Regions from separate parts of the Homo sapiens genome. Here region 1 is linked to region 2. Evidence: fine-mapped expression QTL. A gene starts in region 2. The other region holds a variant in brackets. All regions are shown on one strand. Distances are between the middles of the regions. Region 1 overlaps EPN1 (epsin 1). Region 2 holds the start of NLRP9 (NLR family pyrin domain containing 9).

Region 1 (2,920 bases), 29 kb after region 2:
AAATAATAATAATAATGTCTCCCTTCTCTTCAACCACCATCCCCACACCCAAAACATGTCATCTCCACAGTAGCAAGCATTCAGAGCAGTTATTTCTGGGTAACTTTCTCATAGTGTCGCTGTAGCTGAAAGGAAACTTAGCCATCTTCCCTACCTCTGAAGATTTAAGATAAACTCCTACTTCTCCTGTGTCTAAATGTCTACGAAATTTTGTGACCTGCTAATCCTCCTCAACTTCTTTTTATAATTGGAGATAAAAAGGCATATAACTATGAACACCTGGCAAGAAGGAAGGACACGGGAGAGGGGAGAAGAGAATTGCAAATGTTAGTTATATTCTTTCAGGAAGGCCTATGTTCCAGTCTTACCAATTATTTGTGAACTTATTTTTTATATTTTCCTGATGCTGAGAACATTTAGAAGTTATAAAGAGACAGAGATTCAACGTATAAAGCAAGAACGATAGCTGTTGAGGGAGTAGAAGCCAGGAGGAAGTCGTGTCCAGTAAGCTAAGGGAAAAAATAAACAAGAAAGTGTAATTAACTGTATTCAATGCTAACTGGGTAAGTAGGATAGAATGTATTTAACAAATTGATGTTATTGGTGACTACAAAAACCAGCTTTGTTGAGGTGGGTTCAGGGGACAATGACACGAAAGGAACTGAAAATAGCGAAAACAGACAAGAACGTTTGACATATTTATGGGTGTAGCATGTGCTTTAATTATTTCTTAGAAAATGGGCAGGTTGTAAATGGAAGAGGCTGAATATTGGTAATTGTAGAAGTTGGTGATGGGTACATGAATTCATTATATTAGTGTCTCTGAGAAAAGCTCATGTTTTTTTTTTTTAAGCAAGCACATTATAAGAAGCAATAGATGTGCCAGGGCATATGAACATCAGATGAATGGAAGTTATCCTGTGTTTTTCTTTTTAACTTAAATTCATCTTTTTTGAATTAAATCTTAATTGATACATCCTGTATATGAAATTTCACTTTATGGTATAAATCAGAGGCTTCCTATCCTATAGGAAAGATTCATGCTTGTTTTTCAAATTCAGTACAATTCTCCCAGTGATTTCTAGGAAAGAATAAAGAGGAGAGGAGAGGTAGACATCAGAATGTAGAGAGGCAATACTGTGTAAAAATGAAAAACAAAAAAAAAAACTTTATTTCTATTTTCCCAGGCTGCACAAATCTGGCTTTGATGAAGAAACTCAGAAGATCCTGATGTCTGTGGAAGAAAAAATTCCCCATCTGACCATTTCACATGGACCTTGGATTGACGAGGAATACAAGATCAGGGGTGTGCTCCTCTGATGGGGAACACCCTGAAGTAGTCGTCTCACAAA[G/C]GCTTTCCTTGGCCACAGTGGGACCTTCACCTGGCACCTCTATCCTGTAATTGCACATCATGGCAGCAGGGCTGTGATTTCAGAGGTACTCCCTAAGTGTTCTAGCAATATGATTATGGAGTGTGATTCAGTGTACATGCTGATTGTCTTTGCCTCGGTCCTATATCCCCTTGTCTTTAGAAATCCCATCCTGCCTTGTGATATTTAGAAGCACAAGTACGTTAAACAAGTGCTAAACGCTCTGGAAAGCATGGCTTTATTTTCTTAATGGATGTCTTGGTGTGTAGGAGCATGCATTTGTAGGCACCACAATCCGGATACTTCTGACACAGAAGTGATGCTAGAATGTGTCTATAGATTGTATTGCTAGCATCCAGACTTTCTAGTTTGTCCAGATTTCGATTTGATCAATTTTCTTGTCCAATAAAAAAGCATTTCCAAATCTCTACTTATCCTTTTATATATGACACCCCAATAGATTTTTCTAAAAATTCAGTATTATTCAAATATATCTACACTGTTTATATTTCAAAACACAATATTAAACACTTCATTGTCATAATTAAACATTCCCTAGTTCCCTACGGTAAATTGCTGATGCCTTATTGGCCTGGTCTAAAATTTTTATTACAAAACATAAAAGCAAGATGATGCAGAAATTGGATTATATAATCAGTTATCATTAGATTGAAATATAATCTCAGATTCTCCTGAGAATGAGAAATTGTGGACCTACTCTTGGATCTCTTGGCACACTCCTGGATTCTTTGGATATTTGGGAGGCTGAATTTTCTATAATCTTCAATGTAGAGTGCTCGCACTTACTTGCTTAATTTTACTTCCAGGTTTTCCATATGTTTAAGCAATTATGAACTTTTTTGCCCAATTTTCTATTTGCTTTTGGCCTTTTCCCACAACTTTAAAGAATGCTGGCATAGGCCAGGAGTGGTGGCTCACGCCTGTAATTCCAGCACTTTGGGAGGTCCACGCGGGCGGATCACCAGGTCAGGACTTTAAGACCTGTAAACACGAGTTTACACTCAAGACTGGACAAGGGTTTCCATAGGACAAAAGACACCATTGTGTGGGGGATTCCAGTGGAAAGAAGAACCAAGGAGTTTGCCACGGCCATGTGGGTGAGAATCTTGTGTGTGGGCCTCATTTGATGCTCAGTCAAGATGGGAAAGATATTATGGAAGAACAGAATGGCATTGGCCAGAGTCCCCACCCCAGTCTGCAAAGGAAAGATGGTTTTTATGGCCACTTCCCCTATGGTTCTTAGGACATTGTTCTGAAAAGACATGGGGAGGGTTTCCAGGTGGTCTGAACTGAAGAGCTGGCTATGTCTGTGATGAGATCAGCACTCTTAGCTTTTCATCTTGGAAAGTTATTTTGGTCTTTCCTTTACCCGAAATAGAGACACTGTCATATTCCACAGAAGGGGCTCAACATGGAGAACATACCCCTGACACCAGTTTCACATTTGACTGGTTTTTGGGTATTTATTTTCATTTGTTATTTGTTCTTTCTTTTGTTTTAGAGTCAGGGTCTGCTTTTTGGCTCAGTCT
Region 2 (2,920 bases):
AATCCCAGCTACTTGGGAGGACGAGGCAGGAGAATCATTTGAACCTGGGAGGCAGAGGTTGCAGTGAGCTGAGGTCATACCATTGCATTCTAGTCTGGGCAACAAGAGTGAAACTCTATCTCAAAATACATATCTATATATATTTGGTATTATTTTTGCCACCTGTCTTATTTTGTCTACCATATATTTCTACTTCATTTCCTGTCTTTTGTTGAATTGCAATGATTATCTGAAGGGTTTATAATACTGGGAACGTTCACTGCTCTGTTTCTGTCTGAGTTGTCTGCAGATGCTAACCTATAGTAAATCTAACTTTTTCCTTATATACTGTAATAAGAAGGCATATACCGGCCGGGCACGGTGGCTCATGCCTGTAATCCCAGCACTTTGGGAGGCCGAGGCGGGTGGATCACGAGGTCAGGAGATCGAGACCATCCTGGCGAACACAGTAAAACCCCATCTCTACTAAAAATACAAAAAAATTAGCCGGGTGTGGTGGCAGGCACCTGTAGTCCCAGCTACTCAGGAGGCTGAGGCAGGAGAATGACGTGAACCCGGGAGGCAGAGCTTGCAGTGAGCCGAGATTGCGCTACTGCACTCCAGCCTGGGCATCAGAGCGAGACTCTGTCTCAAAAAAAAAAAAAAAAAAGAAGGCATATACCACTAAACGATAAAAAAAAATTTAAATTTGCTTTTATGTCCTCTTCCTTTATTTTCATCTTCCTGAATGTGATCATCTGTAATTTTAATATCCGTTCATTTTTTCATTATCAAAATTGGATTAGACTATACTAAGGATGGGAAGGTCTACAGAGCAAACAAACTCATAGAATGCTGGTAGGAATGTCAGTAATTATATACACAAGGGAAAACCGTTGAGTGTTATGTAGCAAACATGGTGACCTGTGTTTGCTGTTTGACCTATAATTTATAAATCTAGAGAAATGTGTGCTTATATACACCAAACTACACAAAAACACTTGTTCCTGGAAGCATCATTTATGTCAGACAAAAACAAGACACATAAGTGGCAGTCAACTCTACCATTCACATGCATTTGTTTGGAAAAAGATGAAGCTTCTTCCCTAGATGATGTTTGGTGCAAGCTACGCATGATGATATCAATAATTTTGAGCTGCTTTCAGCTGCTGAAGCTTAACTCTGTAATCATGTCATTCTTCTCCAGGTATCATTTATTCTTTATTTTTGAGGATCTTTCTTTTCCCTCTGGAGACACCTCAGTTCACAATCCTGGGGCGATATGGCAGAATCTTTTTTTTCGGATTTTGGCTTGTTGTGGTATCTGAAGGAGCTCAGAAAGGAAGAGTTTTGGAAATTTAAGGAGCTCCTCAAACAACCTTTGGAGAAATTTGAACTCAAGCCAATCCCCTGGGCTGAGCTGAAGAAGGCCTCCAAAGAAGATGTAGCAAAGCTGCTGGACAAACATTACCCAGGAAAGCAGGCATGGGAGGTAACACTGAACCTGTTTCTACAGATCAATAGGAAAGATCTCTGGACAAAGGCTCAGGAAGAGATGAGAAGTAAGTGCTGGATGATGGGGCGAGGACCCATGGGGGAAGCCTGGGAACAAGGTGATAGCATTGTTAAATGAGTGGCCACCCCCTCCATCAGATGAGAATGTGTGTGGGTCAAGGTGAGAGTTGAAGGTAGGAAGAGTTGCAGGCCAGGGCTGTTCATATGTGGGCCAGCGATGAACTGGGGACAGATGGCGTCCTGATACCAACTGTTCACCTATGGAGTGTCTTCCCATTTTTCCACCCCAAGTGGAGTCGTTGTTATAGGAGATGAGTGGCCAGTTAGTGTCTGCATTGCCAGGTCTACTGAGATGGAATTCTAGTATGGTAGTTGCCTATCTTTTTTTTTTTTTTTTTTTTTTTTTTAGAGAAAGGGTCTTGCCATGTTGCTCAGGCTGGTCTTGAACTCCCAGGCTCAAGTGATCCACCTGCCTAGGCATCCCAAAGTGCTGTGATTACAGGAGTGAGCCACCATGCCTAACTGCCTGTCCTTTTTGACCAGACATGTACCAAGGAGTAGGTAGAATCTTAAGACAATCAGACAGCGTATGTCCCGGGTACTACAGGAAGCATTCTTGCGAGCTTGTTTGGAGGTTCTAGTAGGGGAGCACAGCTTCTCTTCTGCCCGCGATGGAAGGACCTTCCTCTATGGGCAAAGGTTGTCATCGTCTTTGACCCAGGGGAGACTTTCAGGACGGACGCATATGGAGCAGTGAGGGAGGAAGTGGACACCCACCCAGCTGGCCACATCAGCCGAATTAGCCCTGGGGCGACCAATGGGGTGACAGACATCACAGCCAGGTTGTCCTCACGTCCTGGAAGCATTCTTTCTGCATAATGTCTTTTCATTCTTATCACAACCCAGGAAAGGTTTACAAGTGAGAAAACTGGACAAAACAGTGTTCCCATGTGTTACATGACTTTTCCAAAAGTGACAGATCTGACTCCGAACCAGTTCTGCTGGACTCATTGATGGGGTCTACACCCTCCTCTCGGGGGATACTTAGGAAAAACTAAATATATTCCCTATTAGGTATCTAGTAATTAGCATTTGTTTCTGATGATTGTTATCTTCTCCCTTTACTTTTGAGTTCCATCAACTTCTGTTACGTTTACTTCTGTTTTGTTCATGTTTCTTCTTTGTGTTGGTAATTCTAATTTGAGACCTTATTTCGTATCCCCACATGCTTGAGGGTATTTTATTTGGTTTGGAGTTGCTTGCTGTGTTAGTTTTTTGTTTTTTTTTTTGTTTTTGTTTTATTTTTTTGAGACGGAGTCTTGCTCTGTTGCCCAGGTTGGAGGGCAGTGACATGATCTCGGTTCACTGCAACTTCTGCCTCCCAGGTTCAAGCGATTCTCCTTCCTCAGCTTCCCGAGTAGCTGGG

Evidence for each region.
Region 1: its variant is fine-mapped to the expression of NLRP9 in gastroesophageal junction (GTEx, PIP above 0.99). The same link has a PIP of 0.9 or more in sigmoid colon.

Annotation. Positions count from the first base shown.
Region 1 is chr19:55,707,312-55,710,231 of GRCh38, reverse strand. EPN1 (epsin 1) reads right to left here. Exons shown (of 11, transcript NM_001130072.2): 11 at 699-2,920. NLRP9 (NLR family pyrin domain containing 9) reads left to right here. Exons shown (of 9, transcript NM_176820.4): 9 at 1,188-1,794. The coding sequence ends at 1,320. It also overlaps the pseudogene VN1R106P. Among named protein-coding and RNA genes, the nearest start is that of NLRP9, 30 kb to the left of the region's middle. The variant G/C (reference allele first, on the strand shown) is at 1,353.
Region 2 is chr19:55,736,716-55,739,635 of GRCh38, reverse strand. It overlaps NLRP9 (NLR family pyrin domain containing 9), which reads left to right and starts at 1,234. Exons shown (of 9, transcript NM_176820.4): 1 at 1,234-1,541. The coding sequence starts at 1,262. It also overlaps the pseudogene RN7SKP109.